2 linked regions of the Homo sapiens genome follow. The protein of the gene in region 1 interacts with the protein of each later gene in a pairwise test. Each region holds a gene or a part of one and is shown in the gene's direction. Other genes may lie near its edges.

Region 1 (7,023 bases):
GGAGAGGAGCTTCTGCGGAAGCAGGCTGCTGGAGGAGGTGATCCAGAGAGCCTGACTCCAAGGAACAGGGACACCTGGGGACAAGGCATGCTGAGGGGTGGAACAGAGCTGTCTGCAGGCCTGGGAGGCCCTGCGCTCTATTGCAGGATGCGGAGGCAGGGCTGTCATCGGACGTGGAGGGAGCGTGTTGGTGTCAGACTCAGGAGGGAAGGATGACTGGGGAGGCACCAGCCCCTCCCTGGCCAGCCCTCAGGGGTCCCCATCACTCCTAGGACATTTCCCCGACTCCCTAGCATGGCACTCAAGGCTCCTGATGGCCTTCACTCAACCTCCCACCTGGCCTTATTACCCATTACTTTGCTTCACACTCTGCCTCCTCCGGACCCTACTGTTCGCCACAAGCTCCCTGCACATTTCTACCCCAGGGCCTTTGCTCAAGCTGTTCTCTCTCCCCATAGTGCTTTTTCTCCCCACATCCACCTGTCTAAAGCCTCCAGGCGCAGCTCCAGTGCCCCCTCCTCCGGGAAGCCTTTCTGATCTACCACGAAGGGGTCTCCACTCCCCAGAGTGACTTTATCTGATCTCTCCCATGACTATGAGCCTGTGGAGGGCAGGGAGCCATGGCCAGCTCTTTGTGGGTCTCCCATTATCTCAGCACAGTGTCTTCTACATGGTATGACACATGCATTACCTTACACACAACACATGTGTTTTGAGTTGACCTGACTTGGACATCGTGGGAAGGACCACAGGAAGATCGATCATAGCCACCATCTAGCAAAGGCCTGCCACATGCTGGCCCCTGCGCAAGATGTCACACATGTGTGATCTCATTTGATCCCCCTGGGAGATGGCTATTAGCATGCACAGGACACCCATGGGGAAGCTGAGCCTCACAGCCACTAAGAGGCTTGCCTCCCAGGCTTACACGGTCCTGTCCAGCTTCAGAGCCAAGGTCCATGCAGAACCTCGCGGGGGCCCTCATTTCTTGATCTTAATGAACCCCCCTTTCAGGGGCAGGGATCAGGCTCTCCTAGGAAGAGGAGGGCAGGCAGAAGGGAGAAGAGAGCCTGGAGCCGAGATGCTTCCAACCCACCCCAGAGGATTCCTCACTACCCAACCCCCAACCCCAGACTTGGGTGGGCTGGGCTCTCTCTGCTGCTGTCTCTCCCCGGGACACTCTGCTCAGCTGCCTTAGATGCCCTGGCCCAGGCTAGAGGAAGGCAGGCAGCCAGGAGAGGGCAGGGAAACCCTAGCAGAGAGCCTAGAAAGCCGCTTTTGCCCCAGCTCGGTCCTGATGCTGGTGAGTGCCCCTCTCTGGTCCTGTCCTTATATACAAAATGGGAACAAGGATTCCTGCCCACTCACCATCAACTATCAAACGTTTATCAGGTGCCTCTAAGTGCCAAGGGAGGGCTGGCTGCAAACCTGAGCAGGGAGGGAGAATTAGGTGAGGCAGCTCCTGCTCAAGGCCATGGTCACCAGCAGTGTGTTGTCACTGCCTCTGTCCCTGGGTCTCTGGATGCTGGCTTGAGACCTTGTCCCGCCTTTGTGCATCTTGGCTGAGTTGAAGGACCCACTTGCTGAAGGACCTTGGACCAATCACTTCCCCTCTCTGAGCCTCAATCTCCTTTTCTATAAGAGGTAGAGGCTTGGAAGTCCCAAGCTCCTTCCCCAGGCACCTCCCTTGTACGTTGAGATGGATGGCTGAGGCTGCTGAGGCCAGGTTATGGCCAGGTGCTCTCAGCAGCCTGGAGGTCCCTGATCCCTGGTGGCCCCTAGTGGACTTTGTTGTCCTGGACAACATCACAGAAGCTGGAGAAATAGGCCCGACCAGATCTACCTTCCCAAGTCTCTCCGAAGGATTGGGTGAAGGTATCCCAGTAGGGCCAGCTCTATGCGTGTGGCCACCTATCCAATTGCACAGGGCCCCATGCTCAGAAGGGTCCTGCACCTTGTTTAATACTCTGATGTCTACATCTTGAAATTCTTAATCATTTTTGAGCATGGGCCCTGTACTTCCATTTTGCACTGGGTCTTGCAAGTTCTGTGGTGAATCCTGCCTCACACCCTCATATGGCTTCAGGCACAAAGTTTCTCAGCCCCAGACGAGACCCCAGAGCGGGATCCTGCTACTGCCAATGCCTGTGCCCCTGTGAAGGGAGGGTAAAATAGTCACACTGGGCCCTTGACATTGGAGGGGGAAGAGGGAGAGAAGGTGGGTTGGGAAAAACAGGCAGCCCCAAATCTCTGGCACCTGAGATTAAGGTGGAGAGAGCTTCTGGGCTGAGGATGGTAGGTTTGCTGGGGGTTGGGGAGGCCCCTGCTGCAGATACAAGATCAGATAAGCCTGAGAGCTGGCTCCCCATGCTGCCAGCCATGAGGGGTTAACAGCAAAGGGATGGACCTGAACCTTCGGAACTGACACCTTCCTGAGCAGCCAATCAGTTGCCAGGACTCGTGGGGCTGCACCGTGATTGGCTCTTGCCGCCTGCTCTGTTGTATAGACCCTATATTGGAGCCGGCAGGGCCCTGTGAGTTCTTTGCATCAAATCCCCCGTTTCGCAGATGGGGAGCCTGAGTCTGCTCTGTGGATGGCCCCGTGCTAGGTGTTGGGGATACAGAAACATGGCAGGAAGACAGTGCCCTCGTGTGCCTGTGGCATAGAGGGGCGCCCCCTTACACCTCACCTCGTTAGAACCAAGCTCGACGGAAGCCCTGGTGAGCTTTTAAAACTGAAAGTTAGGCTGGGCGCCGTGGCTCATGCCTGTAATCCCAGCACTTTGGGAGGCTGAGGCAGGCAGATCGCTTGAGCCCATGAGTTCGAGACCAGCCTGGGCAACATGGAGCAGAAACCCCATCTCTACAAAAAATACAAAAATTAGCCGGGCATGGTGGTGCATGCCTGTAGTCCCAGCGACTCGGGAGACTGAGGTGGGAGGATCGCTTGAGCCTAGGAGGGTGCGGCTGCATTGAGCTGTGATTGTGCTACTGCACTCCAGCCTGGGCAACAAAGTGAGACCCTGTCTCAAAAAATAAAATAAAATAAAAAGAGCCTCCCAAAAAACAACTGAAAGTTAACCTGGCCTAAATCTCTCCTGTGGCTCCCTTCACACTTAAAACTCATCTTAATGCGCAAACCGTGAACAACAGCCCCCGTCTCCCCAGCCTCATTTACCACACCCCTTACCCACTTCACTCCAAGTACACAGACTGCCTTGATGATCTCTGCCTCCCCCGAACCTCTTCACTCCCCTTTATGACACCCAGAACCCTCCCTGCTTCCTGTCATTCAGTTCCCTGCTTAAACATCGCCTCCTTGACCCCCTGTCTACAGCAGCCCCCCGTCTCCAACCTGCCCTCTCCATCCCACCACCCTGCTTGGCTGTCTTCATAGGCCCCCCGACAGCCCGACTTCATCTTGCTGCTCCTTTGCTGCCACTCCTCCTCTTGGATGGAAGCTCCCTGAGGACGGGGCCCTTATCTGCCTCACTCCCTGCCATCGCGCCAGTTTCTAGAACAGAGCTGAGCCCATTCCTGTTGCTCCGTCATGACTGCCTCCCCGACCCCGGGGAGGAAGGCAGGGCTCAGCTCTGCATGGAAGAATGTGTGCTGCTAATTGAGGTTGAATCATTTGGCACTTAATTTTCACTTTCATTTGAAATCCTCTCTTCGGTAAACTGGCGAATCCAGCCTGGGATTCCAGTGGACAGGATGACATCAGCCTCCCTAGCTGTGTGCGCCAGGCCCCACCAGGTTCTGCCTGGCCTCTCGGCAGCCCCATCCCTGCTCCTGCCGCTGTGTGTGTGGGTGCCTCATGATGTCCAGTGGCTCAAGCCTCTGCCTTAGCTCAGGCACCCCTTCTGTTGGGTATTCTGTTCCCTCCTGCTCCACCTCTCCCTGCCCCGTGACACCTCCAGCTGCCTTCATCTTTCAACCAATAGCACGGTAAGGGCCTCCCCTCCTGGCTGATGTGCCAGTTTCCCCCTCTGTTCCCCTCTGGCCCCTCCCTAAGACTTCTCCAAGAGGGTCCCTCCCTCCCTCCCTCCTTCCCTCCCTCCCTTCCTCCCTCCCTTCCTCCCTTCCTTCCTTCCTTCCTGACGGAGTCTCGCTGTGTCACCAGGCTGGAGTGCAGTGGTGCGATCTCGGCTCACTGCAACCTCTGCCTCCCGGGTTCAAGCGATTCTGCTGCCTCAGCCTCCCAAGTAGCTGGGACTACAGGCATGCACCACCACACCCAGCTAAGTTTTGTATTTTTGGTAGAGACAGGGTTTCACCATGTTGGCCAGGATGGTCTCGATCTCTTGACCTGGTGATCCACCTGCCTCAGCCTCCCAAAGTGCTGGGATTACAGGCGTGAGCCACCGTGCCCAGCTGGGACCTTTTATAAATGCAAATCTGATCTCATCACCTCTGCCTGGCTTGGCCCCTTGCTGGTTCCCCATTGCCCTGAGAACCAAGACCTGACTGGTCCGTGCCCCTATGACATCAATCCTTTCTCACCCCCAAGTCACTAGCCATGCGTGCCCTGTGGTCTCTGGGTTCCTTGAATGCACCATCCTTCCTCCGTGGGGGTGGGCTTCGGTGGTGGTCAGGTGATACCTGGGTGCTGGGGCCCCTTCCACCTGCCCCATTCCCCTCCTCCACTCCATTCTAGGGCCAGGCCTCAGAGTTCTACAGGCACTAGATGAAAACATGGTCTCTGCTCTCTCCAACTCCATTTCCAGCCATGAAATAGCAGCGATGCTTACCATGTGGGCCTTTCTGAATTGGGTAACAGGATCTAGCCTTGCTCTGCCACCCACTGGCTGGGAGATCTTGGGCAAGTCCCTTCCTCTCTGTAAGCCTCAATTTCTTCATCCGGAAAATGGGGTGAGGGTTGCCCATGGTGGTCTGTGCATAAGGTTCCTCTCTGGTCCTGGCTGCCTGTGGGTCTCTTAAGTAAGGGGGACCCTCAGGGGTGTCACACCATTGACACATTCCTGCACCTGTCCCTCTGGTCCTCTGGGGAGGGGCCCTGTGGCAGGGGCATTTGGGGACATGGAAAATGAGACTGCTTAGCTTCTCAGCATCTCCCAGTGGGGTGGCTTGAACATCCTCTGTTTTTTTGGATTCTCCTAATGGCTCCAAGAAATAGGTATTTTCCCCTCCACATTAAAGAGATTGAGGCTCAGAGAAGTTAGGTCACTCACCCAGGGTCACACAGCCAGGATGTCCTGGCTTCCCAAGGAACTCTGTGTTCCCGCCCAACAAGAAAGGTCCTTGACCTCTTCAGGCCTCAGTTTCCTCATCTGTCTAATGGGGGTAACTTAAGATCCTTTTGTCTTGGATCACATGAGACTTCAAGACCTAACATACAAAGACCCTCAGCCCCCTGCCTGGCCTCAGAGAAGGTGGCTGTTGCTTCTCAAGGTCCCAGCTCTTTCCCCATCACCGTGGCCCTGAGATTCCAGGGATGACCCAGAGGAGACAGGTGAATCTTGTGGGGCTTCTTGGCACTAGCACTGTGGCTGGACATTAGAGGAGAGAGTGTCCAAGCATTTCCCAAAAGTGTGTTTCTGGTCAAAACTGGAAAAACAACACAGGTGTGGCTTTTCCCATCATGCCTCACTGTGTCTCCCTGGACAGCGCCTTCTTCCTGAAATCCCACAGCAGTGTAGGTGGTACCCAGAGTAGGTGCACGCCAGCACCTGCTGTGCACCAGACCGCGGGCTGGCCCCAGGGTGCAGCGGCAAACAAATGAGGCTTAGTGCCTGCCACCTGGGATGCTGAGTTCCCCAAGGAGTGCTGGTTTAGGTGGGGTGGTAGCCCCGACATGGCTGGAAGTCAGGAAAGGCTTCTTGGAGGAGGTGACATTGAGCAGGGGCTGGAGGGATGAGTAAAAGTCAGCCAGCCTGGCAGTGGGGAGGAAGAGAAGGGAGAGAGGAAGGAGAGTGGGAAGTCAGGGGCCACTGTTTGCAGGCACTTTCCAGACAGGCGGGAACAGGGCCGTTTGAGGAACTGAGAGGTAACCAGGAATTCTGTCCAGGGCTGGACAGGCAAAGTGTATTAAAAAGGCTGGGCTGCCCACTTTTTGGGGGTGTGGGGGACTCCTCTCAGGAGAGGTGTCTTTTGTGTTACTCTGAAGTGTTAGCGCTTCTGCAGCCTAACATTGAGTAGCGTTCTCTGAGGACTTCCTGGAGGAGGTGGTTTAATTCCCTTCCACCTGCATTCACTGGGTGACAGGCCTGAGACTGTGGAGAATAAGCAGGCATCGGCCTGGCCCACACAGAACCCACAGCCCTTGAAGGGGTGGAGACTCACCAAGTGCCTGCTCGTGGTCCAGGCAAAGTAGTCACCTGAGAGAGGGAACCATGGGCTCTTTACAGGTAGAGGACGACGAAGCTCCGCCAGAGAGGAGGACTTGTCTGGGCAGGGTTTTGAAGCATGAATAGAAGTTGGGAGTGAAATGGGGCTGGAAGCGTATTCCAGAGGGAGATACAGACAGGATCAAAGGCTTGGAGGGCTGGGCAGCCTGGAGGGTGTGGGGGCCAGAGACCAGGTTGGTGAGAACATATGGACAGCTAAGGTGGGAAGGACATTCTGGGCAGGGGCTTTGTGTGGACCAGCACAGGGAGGTGGGCAGTGTGAGCCTTTCCCGGGAAACGGCTTGGCTGGTGTGCGAGGGGAGGAGTAGGAGGAGAAGTCAGAGGAGCCGGAGGTCTCAGTGGACCAGGTCAGGGCCTGTGTGGGGGACCACAGCGGGAAAAGTGACAGTGATTCCCTAACCCTCAGGGGCAGGCGGTGAGGGCATTCCCGGAGGCACAGCTGTGGCCTGGGGCAGTGAGCACTGGTCGTGGTCACTGGTTTCTGGTTTCTTACCTAGTTGGGTCACTCACTGGCTGTGTGGCCTTGGGCAAGTCACTGCATCTCTCTGAGCCAAGTTTTCCCTTCCACAGCGTGGGTAGCCAGCACCTTCCTCGCGGGGATGTGTGTAGCAAGAACTGGCTTGCAAAACCTCCCCTATTCCGAGCTTGGAGCCCT
Region 2 (7,023 bases), on another chromosome or scaffold:
AGAACCTGCCACTGTCAGAGCCCTGGTCTCCCTGTCTGGGGCCAGGACCCGCGTTTGGGGATGTGCTTTAAGGGAGATGCCAACTGAAGTATTTTTGTCTTGCTAGCTCCGTTGCTAAGCAACCACTGAGCGGCAGCAACAGCTGGGGGAGAGTGGCTGGGATGGGAGGCCTGGGGACCACCCTCAAACCTGTCTGTTGCACACACCTCTCCAGTGCAGGCAGGGTTGGGGGGGGGTTGGAAAGCTGCAGAGGGAGGAGGGGTGGCTCAGTGTTGGGGGTCCTTCTGAGCCAGGAGCCTCCCCTCTTACTGCCCTTCTCCCGTTACAGAGGCTGTGATCAATAGCCAGGAATGGACTTTGAGCCGCTCCATTCCTGAACTGCGCCTGGTAGGTAACCCAGTCCCCTTGCCTATAGGGAAGGCTGACCTCCCACCCACTGCACTCTCAGCTCTCTCCCTTCACCTCTCCTTCTCTCTCTCTCTCTCTTTGGGAATAGGGAATCGTTTTCCAGTTCTCCTGAGAGTCTGCCTTCATAGCACCAACATGGGGTTTGCTACAGCCTCCTCACAAGTTTTTCCTATCTAGTCTTTATGCAGCCATCCCCTTTTTCCTGTTTGTTCATGGTCCTCCTCCAGGCTTCTCATTTCTGGTATCTGCCCTTTGGCCTTCATGTTGTACTGCCTAGAATTGGGTAAAGTTTTCCAACTAGTGCCTAGAGCTGTGACATGCTACAAACACACACACACAGAGACACACACACACAACATATCTAGTATGTTTTCTAAACAACCCAACACACAAAAAAGCTGGTACTGAATTGCTGACATTCTTCAGCTCGTGCTCCACTTTGAGCTTGGGATCATTTCTTACCACACTCATGCCCTGATCCTCCCAACTGCTCTGATCCCCCCAGCTGCTCTGATCCTCCCAACTGCTCTCTCTGGAATGACTGTCATCCAGGCCCTGTAGGGTCCTGCTTGGATGACTTATCTCTCTGGGTTTTCTGGAGTGTCCAGACCCATGCATCCTGCCTTCTCTTATATCCCACAATTTCTGCTCCACAACCTTGCCCTCAGGGTGTGCTGGGCGATGCCAGGAGTGGGAAGTCATCGCTCATCCACCGATTCCTGACTGGCTCATACCAGGTGCTGGAGAAGACAGAGAGTGAGTTCTGAAGAGCCATAGTAAGCTAACCATTGGGGTCAGGGATCCAGGAGTGAGATCAATGATTAGGCAGGTGTGGAGACCAGGGGGGAAGGATGAGGCCATAATAGCAAAAGCACTGGGAGCATGGGGAGGTTTGGTGACCTGTCACCTCTGACCTGTTACCCCTTCCAACTCTTCTGGACAGGTGAGCAGTACAAGAAAGAAATGTTGGTGGATGGACAGACACATCTGGTGCTAATCCGAGAGGAAGCTGGGGCACCTGATGCCAAGGTGAGGGTGGAGGTGGTGGGGGACAGGCTGGCTGGGGTCAGCACTGGCCAAAGGAGAGGGCTCTGGTTTCCCAGGTCTTCATCTGGATTGGGTCCAGAGGAGTAGACCTGTCTGACTTTCCATTTGCTCCCTCACTCCCCGCAAGTTCTCAGGCTGGGCAGATGCTGTGATCTTCGTCTTCAGCCTGGAGGATGAGAACAGTTTCCAGGCTGTGAGCCGTCTCCATGGGCAGCTGAGTTCCCTTCGCGGGGAGGGACGAGGAGGCCTGGCCTTGGCACTGGTGGGGACACAAGGTAAGGAGGGGTTAGGAAAGCACTGCTTTCAAGGGAGGCCCTAAGGAGGCTACTGGGATATTGCCCAACATGGGTGAGAACTTGGTAAGGTGTGGAAATGGCCACTTGGATTATAGTACCCTTCTGGAGGGAGCCTGGTCTCCAAATAAGGGAGTCATGAAACCAAACAATAACTTCCCAAGGTCTGAGCAGAGAAAAGGGGATCTCCAGGGAGGAAAGGACAGCTATAGTAGCCATCTCCTTGCCTCTCCTGAAATGTCACCTACCTTGTGTTCTGACACTGCCATTTCCTAGTGCCACCATCCTAGGACACAGAAAATCTCAAGTCCTAGGGTGGATAGGAAACCTTTTCCATCTTCCTTTTTGCGACAGCTGGGTAAGGCTGACACCTTTTAAAGGAACTTATCCAAAAACAAAGTGAAAACACAAAGGAAATGATGATGAAAAGAAGAGAGCAGAAAACCTTTTAGTTCTCAGAGAAGTGACTCAGAGGCTCCCAGACTCTGCCAGGGCCAGGAAATGCTTTTCCAGCACTCCCCTGTGTCGAGCTGGTGGGACTTGGTCTGGATGCCTGTTCTGCTGGTGCCTATCTCCACCTGTTGCTTGCATCCTGGTTTCTTGCTGCAGAGTGGGCAGTCCAGCCATGACCCATGGGCACCCAACCTTTTCCTAGTTCACAAGCTGGTGTCCTCCCACCAGTTCAGGGTTCTATGGATTTGCAGGGCAGGGTGATTGTCGCTCGCGCCTGGGTCTCAGCTATGTAGACCTTGTCAGGAAGCACCACTCAGCAGCTCTGGAGTATTCCTTGAGGACACACACACACACACACACACACACACAGCTCACCCAGCTAGGTGTGTGAACTGGGCCCAGTACTCAGAAAGGGCTTATGTACTCCCATTCCACCTGGTCACAGAAAAGATGATCTCTCACACCCCATCCCCAGTGGACCCAGCCTGAGGGCCCAGTGCAAGGATAAGGGAATTGTGAAAAATCGAACAAGGTGGGGCTCCTTGTTCAATCCTGCCCCTTTCCTGTCCCCTCAGACAGGATCAGTGCTTCCTCCCCTCGGGTGGTGGGAGATGCTCGTGCCAGAGCTCTGTGCGCGGACATGAAACGCTGCAGCTACTATGAGACTTGTGCAACCTATGGGCTCAATGTGGATCGGGTCTTCCAGGAGGGTGAGTGTAGTGATCTCCAGCATATGTGGGAAGCCAGAGCAAGGGGCCTGGGATATTCTCAGTGGTCAGGCATCCAGGCCTCTCTCTGTGAGTGACAGGAAATTAGCCTTTGTGGGAGGGAGGAGAGATCAGGGAGGCCAGAGAAGGTTTGCTTAATAGTCGCAAGGTCTTTCTGGGCTGGAGGAGCTGGCAAGGCCACAGGTGGCATGGAGGCCACAGTGACAAGGAAGTTGGGTCCTGTGTTGTCTACTGGGGATTTCTCAAAGCTGGGCATGGAAGGGTGGTCTTGGGTATCTGGCCTGCTCACACCTCCTTCCGTCAACTCCCCTCAGTGGCCCAGAAGGTGGTGACCTTGCGCAAGCAGCAACAGCTTCTGGCTGCCTGCAAGTCCCTGCCCAGCTCCCCAAGCCACTCAGCTGCATCCACTCCGGTAGCTGGCCAGGTGAGTTGGGGTTTCAGAGTCTGCAGAGGGGCCGGTAAGATGCAGAGGGGCTGGGGATCCTAGGACAGGTACAGAGTACCCAAGGAGGTTCAGGGAGTGGGGAAACAGATGGAAATGGCAGTGAAACTATTGGCAGAAAGTGCATTGGACTGGAAATCAACCAGATTTGAGACATCATTTGCAGTGTCCTTAAGCAACTCACCTAACCTCCCAAGGCTATCAGGAAGATTGTATGACACAATACTTGTGAATCAACCTTTACAACATTTAAAGCATTGTCACAATGTTAGTGAGGATTTTAAAAATTATTAATGACAACATAAATAAATGGTGAGGTGATCAAGGAATGTCTCAAATTCCCCATAACGAGATATGAGTGTAGCTTGGTGGAGTAGGGGGCATCTCAGCTCTGCTGACTCTTCCATATGTGCCCAGGCTAGTAACGGGGGCCACACTAGCGACTACTCTTCTTCCCTCCCGTCCTCACCGAATGTTGGTCACCGGGAGCTCCGAGCCGAGGCAGCTGCAGTGGCTGGATTGAGCACCCCAGGGTCCCTGCACCGGGCAGCCAAGCGCAGGACCAGCCTTTTTGCGGTATTGGACATGGACATGCTGACCCCCATCCTCCTGTCCCCCATGACCTGCCCATCTTCCCTAGTCCCTAGACTCCTCTGTTGGGCCCTTCTTCATCTATCTTCCCTATCGTCACATCAGTGTATCCCTCTATCCATCCTCAAACTGATTCCAATAACCATTCCAGAATCGTCGGGGTAGTGACTCCGAGAAACGAAGCTTGGATAGTCGGGGAGAGACAACAGGGAGTGGGCGAGCCATCCCCATCAAACAGGTGAGTGATCCAGGGGCTGGGACAGGCTAGGGGCAGCTGGTCTTAGTTGGCTTTTTTCCCACATGTGTCTTTCCCCTTTCTCCAGAGCTTCCTACTAAAACGAAGTGGCAATTCCTTGAACAAAGAATGGAAGAAGAAATATGTAACCCTGTCCAGTAATGGCTTTCTACTCTACCACCCCAGTATTAACGTGAGTGGCAGAGACTGGGCCACATTGGCCAGCTTTGGATTTCCCTCAAGTTCTACCTGTCTATGCCTCTGACAAAGCACTAACCTCATTTCTAGGAAGTGCTAGTCCTCTTCTCTTAAGTTTAGCAGGCATGTGTTAAGAGCCCACCATGTGCCCATGCCAGGAATGTAAAGGTAAATACATTGCCCCAGGAACTTGCAGTCTAGTGGGAGAGCACCCAGGAAGGGAACGCTTTCTGGAGGAGACAATTGCTGGGCCAAGTCTGATGGGCCCATCCCCTAGATGTTCATCACAACCCATTTGGCCCCCAAGACCCCTCCCCAGTCCCTCTCTATTCTGTACCATGTTGACTGCTTCCCAGCATACCAAGGACCCCAACCTTCCCTACACTCTCGGCCCTGTACCCCTCCAGGATTACATCCACAGTACCCACGGCAAGGAGATGGACTTGCTGCGAACAACAGTCAAAGTCCCGGGCAAGCGGCCCCCGAGGGCCATCTCTGCCTTTGGCCCCTCAGCCAGCATTAACGGGCTCGTCAAGGACATGAGCACTGTCCAGATGGGTGAAGGCCTGGGTGAGTAAGGTTTATGACATAGGAGCAGAAGAGGGGCCAGGGCTGGGGAAAAAGAGGGGTAAGAGGGAAGAGGGGGCTGGCACTGGGCGAGTAGGAAGCTGGGTGATAAAGAGGGACCACATAAGGAATGGGGCCAGAAGAAAGAGGCTCACTGAGGTTTCATCTTCTTCCGACAGAAGCCACTACTCCCATGCCAAGCCCTAGCCCCAGCCCCAGTTCCCTGCAGCCACCACCAGATCAGACATCCAAACACCTGCTGAAGCCAGACCGGAATTTGGCCCGAGCCCTCAGCACGGGTCAGTGGGGATGACCTTCCATCTGCTGTCTTCCACACCCAAATAGGATGAGTGTGGGAAATGAATATGGGGTGAAGGCTTGGAGGCTGGAATAAATGCATGAGTGAACACATGGAGCCCCACACATGAATAAGTTCAATCATACCATGTCTATCATAATGGTTAAGACAAGTGGACTCTAACGTCAACTGCCTGAGCTTGAATCCTGGCTTGCCACATGGGCAAGTTACTTGACCTCTCCGTGCCTCAGTTTCCTCATCTGTAACATGGAGATAATAGTTTCTACCTCAGAGGGTTGCTTTGAGGTTTAAACAAACTGAGAATATTGTCTAGTACATAGTCAGCCATGTTTGACATGTTTGAAAAAAAATATATATATATAGTATGCAAATAACATTGTAAACAAATGATCCTTACAACAGTTTTGTCAGGTCAAGATTATTACCCCTATTTCAGAGATAAAGAAACTGAGGCTCAGAAGATTAAGTGCCTTGCTCAAGGTCTTAAGGCCAGTAAGTGGCAGAACCAGGATCTGAGTGCAGGACTGACTCTAAACCTCTCATCTCCCTGCATCCCCAGGAATGATCAAGGGGGAACTCCTGGAGAGGGACAGTTGAGGAGGGGAGCCCTAAAATGCCAAAGCTAGTTCAGGGAATGAGACAGGCTATCAAGAAATCAGGAAATCTGTGGAGGGGGCTACTGAGGCAGCTGTGTCTTCCTCCCTAAGACTGTACCCCATCTGGAGACCTGAGCCCCCTGAGTCGGGAACCCCCTCCTTCTCCCATGGTGAAGAAGCAGAGGAGGAAAAAATTGACAACACCATCCAAGACTGAAGGCTCGGCTGGGCAGGCTGAAGGTGAGGCTCTGGCAGGCACTTCCACTCCCACCCAGAACCCTCATCCCCAACATCAGCTCCCTGGCCTAACTCCTGCAGCAGGAGGAAAAGTGCCTGAGCTGAGTGCTTGACTACCATTACCACTGCACACAACTTAGTGAAAGAGTGGATGGACATCCCCCAGCCCCTGTCCTTCTTTCCTTGTTCCCCAGCTAATTCCTTTCCCCAGCCCCTGTTCTCAACGATGTCCATGTCTATAGCTCCTGCTCCCTCTCCTAATGACGTTCTAGTTCCTCTTCCTTCCCTCAACTCCACTTACCACCCCAGCCCCTGCACCCGGCAGCCCCGCTGATCCCCAGTGATTCAGCCCCTTATCTCAGCATCTCCCACTGATTCCCCAGATCCTGGATTCTGTGACCACCCAGCCCCTTCTCCCAATAACTTTCTTTCTTTTTTTTTTCTTTTCTTTTTTTTTTTTTTTTTTGAGATGGAGTCTCACTCTGTCACCCAGGCTGGAGTACAGTGGTGCGATCTCGGCTCACTGCAAGCTCTGCCTCCCGGGTTCACACCATTCTCCTGCCTCAGCCTTCCAAGTAGCTGGGACTACAGGCACTTGCCACCATGCCCGGCTAATTTTTTGTATTTTTTAGTAGAGACTGGGTTTCACTGTGTTAGCCAGGATGGTCTTGATCTCCTGACCTCGTGATCTGCCCGCCTCGGCCTCCCAAAGTGCTGGGATTACAGGCGGTGGGGATTACAGGCATGAGTCACCGTGCCCGGCCTTCTCCCGATAACTTTCTATTGCCAAGTGCTCCCCAACAGCCCTTGACCATAGTGATCCCCATTCTTGTCCCTCAGTGATTCCCCGCACCCCCACCGCCACCAGCCCCAGGGCCCTCTCATCTCAGCCCTGCGCCCCAGCTTCTG

Evidence for each region. Proteins that work in one complex are often made in the same cells at the same time.
Region 2: the proteins of RAC2 (region 1) and AGAP2 interact in a two-hybrid assay, tested with the Homo sapiens proteins (one study listed by BioGRID).

What each region holds. Positions count from the first base shown.
Region 1 is NC_000022.11:37,234,262-37,241,284, reverse strand, and holds part of RAC2 (ras-related C3 botulinum toxin substrate 2), read left to right. Parts: intron 1-7,023. UniProt on the Homo sapiens protein: Plasma membrane-associated small GTPase which cycles between an active GTP-bound and inactive GDP-bound state.
Region 2 is NC_000012.12:57,728,733-57,735,755, reverse strand, and holds part of AGAP2 (arf-GAP with GTPase, ANK repeat and PH domain-containing protein 2), read left to right. Parts: intron 1-328; coding exon 329-387; intron 388-1,076; coding exon 1,077-1,164; intron 1,165-1,351; coding exon 1,352-1,437; intron 1,438-1,582; coding exon 1,583-1,730; intron 1,731-2,776; coding exon 2,777-2,911; intron 2,912-3,243; coding exon 3,244-3,353; intron 3,354-3,788; coding exon 3,789-3,947; intron 3,948-4,113; coding exon 4,114-4,200; intron 4,201-4,285; coding exon 4,286-4,390; intron 4,391-4,802; coding exon 4,803-4,965; intron 4,966-5,141; coding exon 5,142-5,261; intron 5,262-5,988; coding exon 5,989-6,117; intron 6,118-7,023. UniProt on the Homo sapiens protein: GTPase-activating protein (GAP) for ARF1 and ARF5, which also shows strong GTPase activity. Isoform 1 participates in the prevention of neuronal apoptosis by enhancing PI3 kinase activity.